2 separate regions of the Homo sapiens genome follow, and region 1 is linked to region 2. Evidence: fine-mapped expression QTL. Tissue or cell type: whole blood. Region 2 holds a variant in brackets; the other region holds the start of a gene. All regions are shown on one strand. Distances are between the middles of the regions.

The links. PIP is the estimated chance that this variant, and not a neighbour inherited with it, causes the effect.
Region 1: STPG4 starts here. The variant in region 2 is fine-mapped to the expression of STPG4 in whole blood (TOPMed, PIP above 0.99).

Annotation. Positions count from the first base shown.
Region 1 is chr2:47,150,446-47,158,456 of GRCh38, forward strand. It overlaps STPG4 (sperm-tail PG-rich repeat containing 4), which reads right to left and starts at 4,863. Exons shown (of 7, transcript NM_001163561.2): 1 at 4,726-4,863; 2 at 2,512-2,571; 3 at 813-1,070. The coding sequence starts at 4,806. RefSeq lists an enhancer at 5,381-5,540.
Region 2 is chr2:47,080,519-47,091,194 of GRCh38, forward strand. It overlaps STPG4 (sperm-tail PG-rich repeat containing 4), which reads right to left. Exons shown (of 7, transcript NM_001163561.2): 6 at 9,752-9,856; 7 at 6,473-6,612. The coding sequence ends at 6,490. Among named protein-coding and RNA genes, the nearest start is that of STPG4, 69 kb to the right of the region's middle. RefSeq lists enhancers at 1-223, 224-999, 8,403-9,602. The variant T/C (reference allele first, on the strand shown) is at 5,861.

The DNA of each region.
Region 1 (8,011 bases), 69 kb after region 2:
CTGGTGGAGCTGAGAGTAGAAGCTGACCCTCCTGGGACCACATGCTCACTTCTTTTCTTTTTTTTTTTAATTAAAAAAAATATTTTTAGAGACAGCATGTCACTCTGTCACCCAGGCTGGGGTACAGTCATATAATCATAGCTCACTGCAGCCTCAAACTCCCAGGCTCAAGGGATCCTCCTGCCCTGGCTTCCCAAGTAGCTATTTTTTTTTTTTTTTTAAAGAGTTGAGGGCTTGTTATATTGCCCGGGCTGATCTACAACACCTGGCCTCAAGTGATCCTCCCACCTCAGCTTCCAGAGTAGTTGGGACCACAGGCATGCACTACTACACCCGGCTATTTTTCTTTATTTTTTGTAGAGATGGGTCATTTCTATAAGAAAAGTTTTTAAAAGCTTCCCTGTGGTATGTAGTTATATTTATGCTCTAATAAGGATACTCCCCGAGAGGCAGGGTTTTCTCTTTAAAAGAAGAGGGTTCACCACATATACTGCTTGAAGAGATAAGAGCATAGCCCAATGACAGATAAGATCCCAGGTGCTCTCCAGGCTAGGGGAATCCCACCAAGAGTTGCCCAAGAGGAAAACATTTCTCCCCATGTACTCCCCTTAGGTTAAGAAGATGTTATAGGGAAAAATCTTACTGGAAACATTTGCAAATCAGGCAGTCCTTGTTTGATTTCTACGGGAAATAAGACATCTTAAAGGTTTTCCATTTCTCCTGGGGGAAGATATACTCTACGTATAAAAATACTTTCCTCAGGGGCTCTTAGTAGCTTTCCCACACAAAGCAATCTGCCAGTAGCGCTTTACCTGATCTTTGTCAACTAGTGTGCTGGGGCTTGGCCGTGGTTTGTCTTTGAATGAGTAAGTAGCCACTTGCTTCTTTAACAGGTCCAGGAAGTCAGGAGGCATATACTGCGGAAGATCATTTAGGACTGGATTGTTTCTTTGCACAAGAGGTGGCTTTTTCCTTCCTTCGTTTTTAAAATTGTAGGTTGCTATCACTGGATTTAATAGGGATTCTTCAATAAAAGTTTTCAAGTGGTAAGTGCCAGGTATAGGAGTATCCTGTGGAAAATTGACATCAGTTTTAAGATTGTGTAAACATGTAACTTCTCCTAAAACACCATTCTTGGATGGGAAGCTCCCAAGTAACATCTCTCTTTGTTTTCAAGTTTAATGAAATTATATCAAATACAGTAAACACTCTTGACAGAAGAGTATTTCAAAATCATGATTATTTCCTTTCTGAAATAATTGCTGAATTAAAGCAAACGGGTTAGAGTTGAAATTTAACTTTTTTTTTTTTTTGAGACAGAGTCCCACTCTGTCACCCAGGCTGGAGTGCAGTGGCACAATCTAGGCTCACTGCAAGCTCCGCCTCCCAGGTTCATGCCATTCTCCTGCCTCAGCCTCCCAAGTAGCTGGGACTACAGGCATCAGCCACTACGCCCGGCTAGTTTTTTGTTTTGTTTTTTTTTTTTTTTTTGTATTTTTAGTAGAGACAGGGTTTCACTGTGTTAGCCAGGATGGTCTAGATCTCCTGACCTTGTGATCCGCCCGCCTTGGCATCCCAAAGTGCTGGGATTACAGGCGTGAGCCACCAGGCCCGGCCGAAATTTAAGTTTTTAAAAGGCAACTTCGGTGATTCAACTTTGGGATTCAAGCTTGACTATGAATTTCAGACCTCTAGTGAGACCACTCAGGATAGTCTCTTGGCTAACTAGAAGCTATCCTACATCTGCTTAGCCAATGTAGGATGTTTCTCTCTAGCCCTCAAGTGGGAAGCTGAAGGATAATGACATGACACCAGGATAAACTGGCAGAGCATATGGCCTAGTTAGTCCAATAAGAGGTTTGGTACTTTCAAATTACAACCAGTGTGGCTGAATGGCCAGAATTGAACGTTTAGTCACTGCTGCTTTTGTGGCCATCTTTCCACTGAGCACTCAGCTCAGTTCTGCCTTTAAAATTACTGCAATTCCAAGAAGGCTTTGACCCATGAAGTCCCTCTATTATTGAAGGGCATTGACAGAAAATATGTCTGTAATATAGAAACTCTCTGGTGAGGGGGATCTTCTGGTCATTTTTCTTCCATATATTACCATTTTGCTTTCATATATTGACCATATTAAGAACCATTTGCAGAAGGTCTTTACCATATAAGATAAAAACTGAAACCAAAACACCTTTCCAGAATGTATGCTTTTTTTGTTTTGCAATCTCACCCAGATCATAAGAGCATAGGTTAGCCTTATCTAGATATTCTGTAAAGCACCTAGATTTCTAGAATTGTTTAACTTTCCCAAGCTTCTATTGCATTCAAAATTAAAAGTTAGTTTCTTATTCATATGCTGACACTAAAATTTTAAGTATGACATGAGGTCCATGCAGATCTGAACAATCACTGTTTTCTTACAATTTAGTGTTAGTCTTAAAAGCTATAATTGATTAAAATATTAATGGAATAGGAATAATGTGAATAGGAAAGACTGAACAATGTACATACTGTTAATGCTATTCTCCACCATCCTTCTCTTTCAAAAGAGGAAGTCTTTTGGGCTGGTTTCTGTTAACAAACACAAAGTATGCTTATTCATTTGAGAGGTGATCCCTTGAAATTAAATATAATTTATAAAACATTTGCTTGAAGAAATTCACACCCATACCCAACTGATATGTCTTCATTAAAATAAAAGCTACATAATAATAAATTTGCCCATATTTCCTTAAATTGTTATTTTATGGTCTTAAGTCCTTTCAAATAACTAAATTCCCTTTGATAAAATTAGAGTAATAAACACCCCCATCTCACAGAGATGTTGTAAGTATCTTAAATGTGACAAAATGTGGTGTCCTTAGGAAGAAAAGAGTTAGGCTTGAAGCCAGACCGACTTAGGCTGGAACTCAGCTCTGCCACTTACCAGCTAGGTGCACTGGGTGAGTTACCCAACCCTCGTGCTTCCTCACAGTAGTATAAAAATAAGGCACTACCAGAGTTGGCATGAGAATAAAGCATTGTATGCCAGATGTGGTGGCTCACGCCTGTAATCTCAGCACTTTGGGAGGCCAAGTTGGGTGGATCTCTTGAGGCCAGGAGTTTAAGACCAGCCTGGCCAACATGTTGAAACCCTATCTGTACTAAAAATACAAAAACATTAGCTGGGCATGGTGGCACATGCCTGTAATCCCTCCTCAGAAGGCTGTAATCCCTACTCATGAGGCTGAGGCACGAGAATCACTTGAACTCCGTAGGCAGAGGTTGCAGTGGGCCGAGATCACATCACTGCAACTCCAGCCTGGGCGACAAAGCAAGAAGCCACCTCAGGGGGAAAAAAAAGACTAAGGCATTGTACTTATAAAGACTTGCATATACAATCAGTGCTTAATAAATGGTAGCTTTAATTTTTAACATCCCATTTGCCAAGTTAAGAAGCTGATTATTTTGGTATTCCTCAGTTTCCAAGGAAGCTTTTGTCTTCATATTTAGTACTCTATACCCATTCATCCATTATTATTTCATATTTATTTCAGCCCATTGTCCACAGAACACAACCGTTTAGTATATTGCTGTTTGTCCTAGATAAAATCATTAAAATGTTGAGTTCTCCTTTCATTTATAATGCCTTTATTACTATAAAATATAGGTCATCAAGCAGGACTGCATTAAAAGTAATAATCAGTAAAACTGATATAATTCATTCTTCCTGTCTAGTAACTTAAATCTACTGTACTTATGAGTACCACTGGGCTTTATTTTATTATGAAATATGTTAATTTCTTTAAAAAACATTTTCTCATGACACTGCTAAAGCTGAGCTTCTTCTTTGATACTTCTTCGCGAGATTTATGTTGAATCTTCTCTGTTGCACTTTTATAGTCACAGAAATACAACTTTCTCAGGCAGGTCAAGACAGGCCTCCCACCCCTACCCCAGAATAAGGAAAATGAGATGGGAAGGAGAGAGAAGTAAACGCGATCAATCTAATGGAAGACAATTGGCAGCTGCTGTTTTGTTTTGCCCAAGACAGGTGATCTAAATTCCATCTATCTACCACTTTAAATTCACTCTAAGGGGAAAGATAAAAGATTAGGTTAAACAACCCTCACCCACATTTATTTTAAAATGTAACAAAGGCCAGCCATGGCGGTGCATGCCTGTAATCCCAGCTACGCGGGAGGCTGAGGCAGGAGAATCCCTTGAACCCGGGAGGCGGAGGTTGCAGTGAGCCGAGATCACACCGCTGCACTCCTGCCTGGGTGACAGAGCGAGACTCTAAAAGAAAAACGTAGCAAAAGTAGCTTCAAATATTTTTATAAATATTAAAGTAGGAGGCGGAGCAAAACGTGTCTAGTAAAACTACAGAAGGAAAAACCCAGTCTTCCGGCAGATGGAGCGGAAAGGGAAAGAAATCCAATCACCATATTAAAGCAGTTGTCCAGTTTAATTAGTAGTGGGAAGAAGGGAAAAATACAGAAAACAAAGGGCGAAGGAGAAGGAAAAGGGAAGAAGCAAGGGGAAAAGAAATAAAACAAAGGAAATGTCCAATAAAGACCAGGAAGGAAGGTCCGCAGGTGGAGACGTGCGTGAGGGCAGGGAGAGAAGGGTAGGAAGAGGGAACGAGAGCGGCACGAAGGCCTGGGATTAGAGAGCGGTGGGAAAAGGGTAGTGGGCCTGGTGAGGGGAGCAGGAGCCAGGCCGGCAAGGGGCAGGCCATCTTACCGAAGCTGTGATGAATGATTCTCCACCCACCAGGTCTTCCCTTATTGAGGTGGAAGCGGTGGCGACGGCTGGCTGGTCCATGGTGGCCTCCTCTCTCTCTAGGCTGAACCTGAGCTCCGGTTGCTAGGAGGCGGGTGTGGCCCGTGGGCTCCCGAGCGCGCGCGCCTGGGACCGCTCCGGGGGACCCGCCAGGTTTGTCTTTAGTGCTGCAGGGAAGGGAAGCGGGCACGCACTTTGAGGTCCCGCGCGAAGAACTGCGCAGAGGAAAACCCTCGAAAAGAGACGGTTATGAAAGCTTGTGAGAAGAAAATCTAGAGGGCTCTGGAGTTGCTAGAGAGCCCTCGGGTAAGGATCTGCGAAAAGGGAGGCTTGTTAAGGGCTTGAGCGTACCCACAATCTCCATTAGTTCCCTTCCAATCCACCACCAATCGCACACCCCAGACAGGGAGGCAGTGTGCTTGGTAGGCATACTTAAGAGAAATCTGCCTTAGCACCCACTTTCTAAGATTGTTTCTAAGCTCCTCCAAATAGAAACTCTGGGGCTGACTTCTCTTGCTTCTGACTTGCAGAGTGGAGTGAGCACCAGACACAGCCGGTTTCACTAGCTGTGAAACCACAGACCACCCCATTCTTCTCAGTATAGACCCTTTTTATTGTCAGCCTCTCTAGGCTGTAGCTTCTTCTTAACCTAGGAACATTCTCACCTTTAAAAACAAACCCTCCACAACCTTAATTTCATTTTATACAGTACCTACTGTATTCCAGGGACTTCACACACATTAGTCTCATTTAATCTTCATACCAACCCTACAAAGTAGGTATTAGTTTCATTTTCTGGATGAGGAAACAAAGGTTTCCTTGGACGTTTAGCACAGTTCACTCAGCATCACACACAAATGGCAGAACCAGAATTAAAATCCAGACCTGACTCTAGAGCTCCACTGCCCTATACCATGAAGTTTCTGCTTCCCTTTACAAACTTTCAAGAGTAATATGGACTCTTTTCTCACTTCCCATACTTTCCTTAAAACATCTTAATCTGGCCTGCACACAGCTTTTAATTAAAATTGCACCTGAACTCACCAGGGATCCAAGTGCCAAATCCAGTGGGGATTTTCAGCTCTTATGAAACTTGGCCTTCAATTTTCATTGCTGCATTGATTATTCCCTCATTCTTGAATCACTCTCCTCCCTTGACTACCAGGACTTGGACGCTGGTTGCATATAATGACTTATTCTGTGCTTATTTCCTTGTCTATAGAGAAGGGGATAATAAAATTGGTACCTATCCACATAGGTTATAAAAAAGATTAACTCGAACTGTTCACAACCATGTCTGGCACAGTGCAGTCAGTAAATGTGAGCTGTCATTACCTTTAGGACAAAAGCAACATTTACAATCCAGTCTCTCGCTTCTCTCTTTTTTTTTGAAACGAAGTCTCACTCTGTTGCCCAGGCTGGAGTGCAGTGGCGCGATCTCACTACAACCTCGGCCGCCCGCCACCATGCCAGCTAATTTTTGTATTTTTAGTAGAGACGGGGTTTCACCATATTTGTCAGGCTGGTCTCGAACTCCTGACCTCATGATCCACCCACCTCGGTCCCCCAAAGTGTTGGGATTACAGGTTGAGCCACCACACCCGGCCACTTCTCTTATTAGGATGGCATGCTCTGCTGTATCATGCTTGCAAAAACCCCAAACATGCCATCTTCACATTTCTATTTGTCTCCACATATGCTAGCTCTTCTGCATGAAATGCTATTCTTTTCTTTGACCACCTGGAAAATCTCAAGGGTCAGCTCCTCTGAGTAGACCTCTAAGCCTAATCCACTAAGTCCCAAAGGACCCTGTGCCTATCATTGTTGGAAGATTCATTTTATGACAAATCGTTTCTCCTCTAATTTTAAACACCCAAAACACGGTTTTTAATTGACCCCTTTGAACACAAGGACTAAAATATTTGTTGAATAAACCACTGACTAGTTTTCCCCTCTAAGTAAATCCAAGACTAGATTACAGCAGTGCTTTTCAAAAATTGATATGCATACAAAATATCTGATGATCTTGTTAAAAAAACAGATTGATTCCAATTCTGGGGCAGGACCTAAGATTCTGCATTTCCAACAAGCTCCTGGGTGATTCTGTAGGTGACTTTTTGAGGAGCAAGAGACTAGAGGACTTCATCTAGTTTCTTAAAATACTGGGATTCTAAATTCATTTAACATAGCCTTGAAAAAAAAAACAGGCACTAGGTTTAAAATGAACAACTGAAATTAGAAAGTGAAGAGGCAATACCAAAGTTCTCACAAATGTTAAGAGATTAATCAAGTCCATTCCCTGTGCCTCATTTCATTTTCTTATTTTGGCTGAGCCTGTAAAACTGGCTCAGCAGACTAGGGACTGGTACCCTCGAGACTAAAAGAATATGAAAGGTACAGAGAAGTCCAGAAACCCATACAAGGTGTGACATTAGAGATGGGAACATCTAGATGAGAAAATAGTTTAAGTATCTCAAAAATAGAAACAGCATGGGTCAATGATTTCAAGGACTATCCACAAAGCAGATTAAGCACGTAGGATAAACATAGTGTTCCTTTAAGAAAACATTATCTTATATAGTATCACTGAGATTTATTTCCAGATTATTGTAAGTTTCAAAAAGGGGGAGAGGCATTTCTCTTGAGAATACATATCTATAATTGAGCTCAACAGTGCCTCTGTTACATATCAGATCTTTAAAATTGTTGCCGTCTTCTAAAAATTTTAGGAAAATACGTTACACCAAGGGTGATATTTAACTGCAATAGTTGTTTATTGGGAGAATCATCTGAGAGCAAACATGCCAGACAGTATTATGGTTGGTACAATTACCAAAATCCTATTAATATAACACTAATAGTATGGTTAAGACTTGAAGGTGGGGCTGGGCGAGGTGGCTCACACCTGTAATCTCAGTACTTTGGGAGGCCGAGGTGGGCGGATCACAAGGTCAGGAGTTTGAGACCAGCCTGGCCAACATAGTAAAACCCTGTCTCTTCTAAAAATACAAAAAATTAACTGGGCGTGGTGGCGGGCGCCTGTAATCCCAGCTACTCGGGAGGCTGACGCAGAATTGCTTGAACCTGGGAGGCAGAAGCTGCAGTGAGCCGAGATTGCGCCACTGCACTCCAGCCCAGACAACAGTGCTAGAGTCCATCTAAAAAAAACAAAAACAAAAACAAAAACACAACTTGAAGGTGATATCACAGTCCTGGGTTCCAATAGGATTATGTTGTAGGAAGCATT
Region 2 (10,676 bases):
TTTTGGAGACAGAGTCTCGCCCTGTCTCCCAGGCTGGAGTGCAATGGCGTGATCTCAGCTCATTGCAACCTCTACCTCCTGGGTTCAAGTGATTCTCCTGCCTCTGCCTCCCGAGTAGCTGGGAGCCACCCTCCACCATGCCTGGCTAATTTTTTGTATTTTTAGTAGAGACAGGATTTCACTATTTTGGCCAGGCTAGTCTCGAACTCCCGACCTCAAGTGATCCGCCGGCCTCAGCCTCCCAAAGTGTTGGGATTACAGGCATGAGCCACTGCACCCAGCCTTTCCTCTTTTCTTTTCCAGTCCATCAGGCCTCCTGTGGCCTCAAAGAGCCATGCCTCCCATGCCCACCCCACACCCTGCAAGACGCCTTTCCAGAATGCCCACTCCTTGCTTGTGCCTTGTCCTTTAAGATCCTTCCCACGCCTTCTAGAAGTCCTCTGCCAACTGCCTCCCACCTTACGGGGCCCTTATGCTTTGGCAGAACACCCAGAGGCCAGCACAGCCCTGTGGGTTCTGCTTCTTGGGTTGGACCCCCACATTCCACATACCCGGGCTCAGCCACACGTGTGGGTGCCCCCATGAATGGAACGCCAAGCTGGGTCCCAGGAGGCGCCCCTGTGGCTGGGAGGCTTGAGGTACAAATGTGGAGTGAGGCCGCCATGTCCCCACCCACAGGCTGACCTTGGCCTTCTCTCTCTGCCCAGATGGACTTGCCCAAGCCATGCACCATCCCAGCTCTGTACCCTGGTGGTGTCTGGGAGGGGACTTTACACAGAAGCACAGCCCTCCTGAGCCTATTGTGGCTGTTCAAGGGCCTGTAATTGGTCCCAAAGTCATTATATTTTCTTAATAAAGTTCTACATATGTTTAATCCTATTCTATAAATTACTTTATAAATATGCATCTTTACATTAGGATCTTCTGGGACACACGGGCCATTGAACACAATTTTCAGAACTTTCATATTCATGTCTATGAAGATATTTCAGATAAAGCACTTTAAAAAGTCTTGAATAATGTGGCCACCAGAGATTTTATCTGGAGCCATAAGTACCATTTATAAAACAGGAGAGTTCTTCCCATCGCTGACCCCATTCTCCATAATGCAACTTTTAACTAGATTGCTTTTTAAGTGATCTACAAAGAGCGTGTTGTAACATCTAACATGAGCAACCATAAAATCAAACCTCTGGGGATGATTTATAAATCAGTTCTAAATTTCTTTACTACTTTTTTTTTTTTAATTATTTCATCAGATGATTTCCATCAGCATCCAACACCAGCAATGACTGAGGTTATTCAGGCCAAGAGATCTTCCCTAAATAGTATTTTGTGACTCAAAATAATCCAAAGAGCCTCCCCACACTTCAAGGTGACTTTCTACAAGGCTTCTATTTCCTGATAGATCATTGTGAGGGATCCAGAGAAAGGTTAGAAAGAGAAAGGTTAGAAAGGTAGTGTGGTAGGCTGAAATGTCCCCCCAAAAGTGTCCATGTTCTAACCCCCAGAACCTGTGAATATGTTACCTTACAGGGTAAAAGGGATTTGAAAATGTGATTGAATTACGAATCTTGAGATGAGGCCAGGCGAGGTGGCTCACGCCTGTAATCCCAGCACTTTGGAAGGCCAAGGCGGGTGGATCACTTGAGGTCAGGAGTTTGAGACCAGCCTGGCCAACATGGTGAAAACCCATCTCTAGTAAAAATACAAAAAATCAGCCAGGCGTGGTGGTGCCCACCTGTAATCCCAGCTACTTGGGAGGCTGAGGCAGGAGAATCACTTGAACCTGGGAGGTAGAGGTCTCAGTGAGCTGAAATCGCGCCACTGCACTCCAGCCTGGGTGACAAGAGTGAGACTCCATCTCAAAAATAAATAAATAAATAAATAAATAAATAAGAATCTTGAGATGAGGAGGTTATCCTGGATTATCCAGTGGGCCCAATATAACTACAACAGTCCTTATATAAGGCAGGCAGGAGGGTCAGAGTCAACAGGGGGAGATGTGATGACGGAAATGAGAGTGGAGCGATCGGAGGAAGGGCTGCAAGGAAAGAAATGCAAGTGGTCTCGAGAAGCAGAAGACAAGGAAGCCAACTCTCAGAGCTTCCAGAAGGAACCAGCCCTGTCAAAATCCTCACTTTGGCCAAATAAGAATGATTTTGGATTTCTGACCTCTAGACCTGTAAGGTAATAAAATTGTGTTGTTTTGAGCAACAAAGTCTGTGGTCATTTGTTACAGCAGCCACAAGAAATTCACACAGAGGGTTGAGTGAATGAGCTACCCCAGCACAGATGGGCACAAGGGCTCAGGGAGGCCTTTGTCAACCTGCGCTTTGGGGTATTCTGCAAGTCCAGCTCCCATGCCCAGCCCAGGAGGGGCTGAGGATTAGAAGCCTGAATAGGCGTGATCCTGCCTGGTATATTTCCAAGTGTCCACTCTGACGCTGTTCAATCGGGAAAGCTCCAGCAACTTCCCTCCTCCTTGATGGCGCTCAGTGACCATGCAGGGCCTTGGAGCCCTGGAACTTCAGAGCAGGGAAGAGGGGGGCAGCGGCCAGCCTTCATCAAGCCCTGCACTCCACCTGTGACCAGCACAGCTCCCAGCACATTGCCTTGCTGTCCCCCACGGCCTCCTCCCAGGCTGCTAGGCTGCAACGGGGTGAGGTGAATAGAATGCTTGTCAGTACCTGCCTCTGCCCCCACTCAGCCCACTCTGGTGACCAAAGACGCAGTGTCATAGCCTGAGTTAACTTCCTGCAGTCACCCTGTCTGCCTACAGTTTTCAGGAACTAAAGCACACTCCCACCAAAGCAGTCACGGTGCTAGCTTGCTCCCATGCTAGTTAGACCCCTTGGAGCCCCTACAACTGTCTAGAAGGATGGCACCTTTTTCTGGGCTCAAATATGGGCAAGGCTGTTGTTAACAAGACAATTGAGGGGTATGTACTGGGAGGCCTTCCCCTACAAGTCCATCCCCAGGAGCCCCTTCTCTTGCCACTCCGTCCTCCCTCCTCCCATCACCCATCTCCTGCTCCTTCCTTCCTCATGCCCCCACCACCTCCCAGCCTCCCATGGTTCCAGCCTTGGCCCCTCCTGCTCTCCAGAGTTGCCTTTTCTCTGAGGAGGCTGCAAATAAGCCCAGCCAGGGTCTGGGGCTTGGGCACTGGCCCCCAAAGCCCACCCAGCCCTGCTAAGAGGAGGGTGGGACGGGCAGGCCATGAGGCCCTGAATCCAGAGCCCAACCCCTTCCCTTTGAGCCTGGCAGGTTCTATGCGCCTGCAGCCCTGCCCTTGGCCAAAACCAAGGGGTCTGTAGGGACCCCAGCCAAGAATCAGACCAGCAAAAGCACATGGGTTCAGGCCCTTGCTTGTCCTTCTACCCAGAACAACTGTCACCTGGTCATGGTCAGGCACTAGCTTTCCCCAGAAAATCATGTAGGAGTGCAGTTGGCCGGCACCCCAGGGATCAGGAAGCTGAGATCAGCGAGAAGGAGGAGGGTCAGGGGCAAGGAACCCTATCTGGGCAAAAGCCCAGAGCAGGAAGAAGCATCTGCTGGGGGAAACGGAAGCAGCCCAGATGGCCCTGCAGAATCTTCTCCATGGGTTCCACCTCCAGGGGAAGTCTCTGCAGGCCCCCACCCTCTTCCTGCAAGCTGGTATAAACGCTTTCCCCTTATGATTCCGACAGGGTCCTCATTCTCTCCTGGGATGCCAGGGAGCTGCCCTCCACCCCAGTTACACGCACCTCACACGGGCCCCCGCAGCCGTGCCTGCAGCAAAGGTCTGGGCCCTTCTGACCACAGCTCGTGGCCCAGGCGCAGACCCCTGACCCAAGCTGGCCAACTGGATTCTCTCTCCTAGGAATTGGAGACTTGAACCAAGGAGGTGCCGGCTCTATTCTTTTAGAATGTTGACTCAGAAAGTGATATGAGGAGAAGCTGAGGTCGCCGCATTTGATCCTCTACATATAAAGAGGCAGTGAAAGTCAGCCTCCAGAGGGAGAAAAAAGCAGGCCTGAGAGAGGCGGAGGGGAGACCCTGAGGCCTGAGAGAGAGGAGGAAGGTAGACCAAGAGGCCTGAGAGAGGCGGAGGGCAGACCATGAGGCCTGAGAGAGGCGGAGGGCAGACCATGAGGCCTGAGAGAGGCAGAGGGGAGACCATGAGGCCTGAGAGAGGCGGAGGGCAGACCATGAGGCCTGAGAGAGGCAGAGGGGAGACCATGAGGCCTGAGAGGGTGAGAGAGTGAGAGCAAGAACACATACACACACACACACACACACACACACACACAGAGAGAGAGAGACAGAGAGAGAGAGAGACCTGAGAGAGGCAGAGGGGAGACCATGAGGCCTGAGAGACAGGAGGGAGACCATGAGGCCTGAGAGAGGCAGAGGGGAGACCATGAGGCCTGAGAGAGGCAGAGGGGAGACCATGAGGCCTGAGAGAGAGGAGGGAGACCATGAGGCCTGAGAGAGTGAGAGCAAGACACACACACACACACACACAGACACAGAGTGAGAGAGAGAGAGAGAGAGAGAGAGAGAGAGAGAGATGGTTCTTGCCAGCCCCTGGTTTACACTTTTGTCGATGAGATGCCTCTAAATCCTTACAATCTGACCCCCTTCTTCCCCTTGCTAGTTTGAGGGGTTTCTCTAACCTTTCTATCAATGAGCCTTGGCTAAGATACACGTGGCCATCTCCCGCCTCTATCTCATTCTAGAACAGCATCTCAGTGCCAGGTGCTGCCTGAGATGTTGCTTCCTAGAGAAAACACCCTCCATCAGAATGTCCAGCCATTACTTTCGATCATGCAGGGGACTTTAGCCCACTTGGAGAATAAAATTGGAAACTATCTTCCCTGCAGCCATCTTCTCATCAAAGGGGGACAGGAGACACTATCCTGAGACATCAGTCTGATCTTCCAAGTGTCTGTTTTCTGCTCCAAAGGAATGTAATTGTAGGGCGTTTATTCCACAAATGTGAATACATTCCAGGAGATGATGGCCTTCCCTTTCGCCCCTCAACAACCATTTTACAAGGGCCTGTAAGTCTAGGGCTTTGTTGCAGCCAAAAAGAGACATTCCCTTTGTTTGGAGCCCAATTCACAGGGCAGTTGTGGGAGGAGGGTAATGTGTGTGTGGGAGGAAGAGCGGGATTCTCGGGGGAACCAAAGCGGGGACCTAGAGAAGCCAGCATCATAGCAGTTAATGGGGAGGGGCTGGGCTATTTACTAAAATATAACAAAATGTAAGCATTTTATTAGCTCTTCATTTTATTAGCTTTTTAAAAAGACCCTTTGCAATGATTTATTAACCACTCTGGAATCTCCCTAGCCTTTGCTGAGACACCACTGTCATGCATAGGATCTGCCTAGCTAGAGCCCCTTGGGCAGAAAGCATGTGGTCCCAGCCTTCTGAGGACCCTCATCCCCTCCCACACCCTCACTTGCACCCTCCACTGTCATTGGTCCAGACTGCCTCTGTTCCCCTCCAGCAAATGTTTATTCCTGCCCTGGGCCTTTGCCCAGATAGGCTTCCCCACCCCTGACTCTTTCCTCTGCTGATCACAGCCTCCTGATACCTGGGGTGCCGGCCAATCTACCCTCCTCCGTGCGGGCCACCCCTTACCTCCCAGGCTCAGGCCACACTGCCTTCTCCTTCCTCTGAATGCCTGCGGCCTTCCTTGTCACAATGGCTCCTCTGTGCACCTGGTGCAATGATTTGGCAGCTTCCTGAAACTACAGCTCGTCTTCCTGTTGGAACTGCCATCCACGTGAGGGCAGCCCCTTAGCTTCAAACACAGGGCAACTGGCAGGAGATCCTTGGCACAGCTTGTATGGCCTTCCCCCAGCCGGCACTA[T/C]CCCACACTCCATTTCCGGCACAACCCTCCCCAAACTCAGTCACGTGCCTCATTCATCTTTGTTTCAAGACTCCACTCTCCAACCCCAGCTCAGCACCTTGCACATAGCAGATACTCAAAATGTTGTTGACTTGAAAACACAAATATTCATCAGGTTGAATCAATATTGTTCTTTTCAGGGGATTCAAAGAGAGAAAGAACCAGTTTTGGGGATGCTGTGACGCTCAGCTTGGCCTCTGATTAATGCTGACCGCCCACGGAAGTCTTCAAGAGGGCCATGAGGCCTTATAACCCTGATGCAGTTGAGTTCCAGCTAGAGAGAACAAGGCCACACAGAGCAGAGACCAGACATCTCAGGGCCTGTCTGAGAGCAGCCCGGGGCACAGTCTGTCCGAATCTGCTCTTTGGTAATAAGCATAGTGAACACATAATTTATTGCTCAGACCAGGACACTTTTGAGAGAGAACTGGTAATTATGCTGGGACTATCCCAGATAAGCAAGCAGGACAGTCACCTCAAGCAATCAATCATGTTTTGTGGCCAGACCCCTCCAAGGAATAGACAAAATACAGTTTTCTAAACATGAGAACGTACTAAACCTCAAAGTAGAGCTTGGTGCCAAGATCACTTTATTTTAAAAGCCAATTGTTGTTGTTGAAGAAAAGGCTATGCTCTTGGCCCATTTTGGCTATGGTCGGAGACTGCTTAGGGAATTGTCTTAAAGTTGTATATGCTCCTGGGCCTGGGGTTTTCTGAAAACAGAGCAGAAAACAGGGACTGATGAGACAGTGAAACCAAAACCCTGAGGCTCCTGTGCCTAGCCACTGGCTTGGATGTGGTGGACAAATTCCCCAAGGATGAAGACCAGGGCCACACCAGCCTGGGCTGAAGCCTGGCAGACCCTCGAATTGGAGCATGTCCTTGGAGCAGAGGCTGCTCCTGTTAGGGGCTCATCATGAGGCTGGAGGGGGGCTAACAGGCCAGGCCAAGCCAGGGGCCACCTAGAACCTGCTGGGAGAGGCGGGGTCACATGCCACCTGCATCTCAAGGCACACCTTCTCCCAAAGGGCACTTGGCCCAGGCAACTCCTATCCCGAGGAATGCCATCATCTTTCCCCCGGTGACCTCAGCCTAGCAAGAAGTGAGTGAAGAGAATTAATTCTGAACCTGATTGGTCTAACTCAAAAGCCCAAATCGCCTCTCAAACTCGGGTTGGGTTTTAGTTATTGACCCAGAGTTATTAAAGTAAGGTGTTTCTCAACCAGGGTCCATGGACCCCAGGGTCAGAAGTGTTCTCAAGGGATCCACGAGTTCTAATTTTTAAAAGTCATGTTTTTGTTTTTATAAAATGCTTGAACAAATATTATTATTTATTTATATATTTTTTTGAGACAGAGTCTCGCCCTGTTGCTAGGCTGGAGTGTAGTGCGCGCTATCTCGGCTCACTGCAATCTCTGCCTCCCGGGTTCAAGCGATTCTCCTGCCTCAGCCTCCCAAGTAGCTGGGATTACAGGTGCCCGCCACCACCACACCCAGCTAAATTTTTTTGTATTTTTAGTAGAGATGGGGTTTCACCATGTTGCCCAGGTTGGTCTTGATCTCCTGATCTCGTGATCCGCCCACCTCCGCCTCCTGAAGTGTTGGGATTACAGGTGTGAGCCACAGCACCCAGCCGGGGTTTTTTGTTTTTGTTTGTTTGTTTGTTTTTGGTTTTTTTTTGAGATACGGTCTCACTCTGTCATCCAGCATGGAGTGCAGTGGCAGGACCTCAGCTCACTGCAACCTCCACCTCCTGGGCTTAAGCGATTCTCATGCCTCAGCCACCTGAGTAGCTGGGATTACAGGGGTGCACCACCACACCTGGCCCTATTTTACCAATTATTTAAACAAAGCTTCTCTTCTGCAGTGATAAAATACAAATAAATGCCATTTTCATAGACTAAGACTTCAATTTCTTAGGTCGGTGTCTTCCCATGCTGGTGGCACATGCACATATTCTTGAAGTCCGAAGGCATTTGAGACACCAGTGTAATGGTTAAGATCAAGGGTTTTAGAGTCCAACAAGCCTGAGTTCCAGTCCTAGTCCCACAACCAACAGCTCAGTGGGAGCCTGGGCATGGGCTTCCCATACCTTACCCATCAAACGGGGCAGAGTACCTGCCTCTAGGGGGCTATGAGGCTCACTGGTGTCTCTCTAAGACAAAGAGGCTTGGACAGGCCAGCAGTTAGCTACCACCACTATTATTTTTTACTATTATCACCTACTTGTCATTTCCACCCTGCCCTGCAGTTTCTTATCTCTTCAGGAAACAGCAAGAGTGGAGCAGAGCAGTCAGTCCAGAGCACATGAGATCAGCTGCCTGCAGAAACCGCTTTAAATGACAGGATGTTTCCCTTGCCAAAAGCAGAGGAGCAGCCTGGAAATCTAATCAAGTCCTAGCCAAACGTCAAAGGAAGCTGAAGCCTTTATTATTGCTATTAATGAGGGTTCAAAGTGCATGTGGAGTCCTGGGAGGCCAGGGCAGAGAAAAGAAGGTTCAGGGGGCCTGCATCTCACAAGGCCACCCCTCGGGAGGCTGCTGGTTGGGGTTCAGCCACCTTGAGAACATCAAGCTCAGTTCCCCTCCCCTGATTTCACTGCCACCAACAACCTTCTGGTTGTCTTCAGCTTCCATGAAAATTTTCTATAAGGGAGAGACTCCACCAATCAGTGCTCCAGTCACCACGCCCGTATGGTGAATGCTTAGAAGTTAACACTACATCTTCTGTTGCCTGGGAGTTTGGTTAGCATGACTCAGCGTTCCTGAGAATGCCTGACCCCGTGGGCTCCGACAAACATGTTTCTGGATCATGGTGATGCCACTAAGGTGTGTGGATCCCCCAGCCTCCTGCTGTCAGTCTGTCTGCAATTTCACTGGCAGGGCCTCCCCATTATCACTCTAGATAAAGGCTGTGCTACCTTACTCTGCTGCCCAGCAGCTCTGGGGCAGAGATTCTGCAGGCCATGGCCTGGGATATAGGCTAAGGAGGGCTACGGGAGGTGATTTGCAGCCCAGGCAGTGGCAGTACTAGTCCTCTCCTACCCACCGCTCCAACTTCTCCTTCTAGCCCCTTGACTCCCCTGGGTGGGCCCATTTTCTTACAGGCAGAATTTGTATTTCTGTTTCCCCAGCCATCTCAAATGAGTCTACATACCAGCAAGTCTTGGGGACTTTCAGACCGTATTGCAGACTGAAAGCAACAAAGCTATGGGAATTAAAACTGTCTTTTGACATTAAAAAAAAAAAATCCACTGTTGGTAAACTTCACATTATGCTTTTATAATCTTTCCTGGTCTTCTCTAGGTTTGGAGGAGTCCTGTATGCTCCCAGGATCCACTTTCTTTGTATCTCTCCATGGACTTGAGCCTCTTCCCTGTCTGTCCTGAGTTTTTGGGGGTGGGGTGATCGCTAATGCCTTAATGGTCCCATTTGGGTCAATAAAAATGTTTCTGCTTCAAATTTTGCTTCCTTGGGCTCCCAGAAGCCACACACACAGAGAACAGCCATTCTGGCTGGCAGGAGGCAGCCACTGCAGGTACCCCCAACAAAGCATCTAGTTGGTAACATTGATGGCTGATTAATGTGCTGCTTCCAACTGGCCCCATAATTCAGCCACAGATTTTGGGCCTGGAGTCACTCTGAACCTGAAGTTGGTTGAGAACATCCAGGTATTTGAGGATTTCACTCCTGATTGCCTTGACAGGCAACTGTATCTACCAGAACTGTACACACATGATCATTCCCCCATCTCACCACCACCCCGCACCTCCTACACACATAGAAACAGAAAACCTACCACCATAACCATACCCCTAGGGGTGGGGGGCGATCTGTCTTTCCGAATACTTACTGAACAGCTGGGCAAGAATCGAGGGACTCTGGATTGAAAACAAGAAGTGACAGAGCTTGTTGGAGGCATTTTCACATTATAATGACCTGGACCAGGGCCTTCATGCTATTGAACATTTAAAAAATTGCTTCATTATTATTGTACATTTGATATATTTTAAGGCTTTATTTGCCTTCTACAAATAAACATATGAATCACTGTGATATAGTAGAAAAATCCCATATTTGGTCTCGAGAGATCTCTTTAAGGTGTGAGCTGGGACAAGTCATTGTGAAACGGGAGTAACTCCTGCCTCACCTTCCTTGTGCACGATGGTGAGGAGTGAAGGAACGTTAGGTGAGCAGTACCTGCCTCCCTTCTCCCTGCCAGGGTCCCTGATGCCCCCAGGCTCCCAGCCCACACTCAGGTCCCCCGTTCCCTCACAGCAGCATGCATGCCTCATGCCGTACTTCTCCCTCTGACTGTTAAAGGTGACTTGCTGCTCCAAGCTGTTAGCTTTATAAAAATGCTTATTCTTTCATATAAATGTCATATATGTTATCTCAGTCCAAAAAAGTATTCATAGCAATTCACTGATATAAGCACAATGCTATGAGATAAACATAAATAGGTGAACACAATTTTAAAAAGACAATCACTCCAGTAGGAAAATTAGCAACAGGCCATTCATGAAGAGGATATACAAACGTTCAATGAGCAAACTTTGAGGAAGGAGGGCTTTAACCTCATTTATAACCAAATACATTCTAATTTAAAAAACAAACTTCCTTTTTTTCCCACGGGGTGAGGGGAAGGGGGTTCTAAAAATTAAAACAGGTTAAGAAAGAACAGAGAGAGGAAGGAAGAAAGGGAGGGAGAAAAGGAAGGAAAGAAGGAAGGGAAGGGAGGGAGGGAGGGAGGGAGGGGAAGGAAGGAGAGAGGGAAA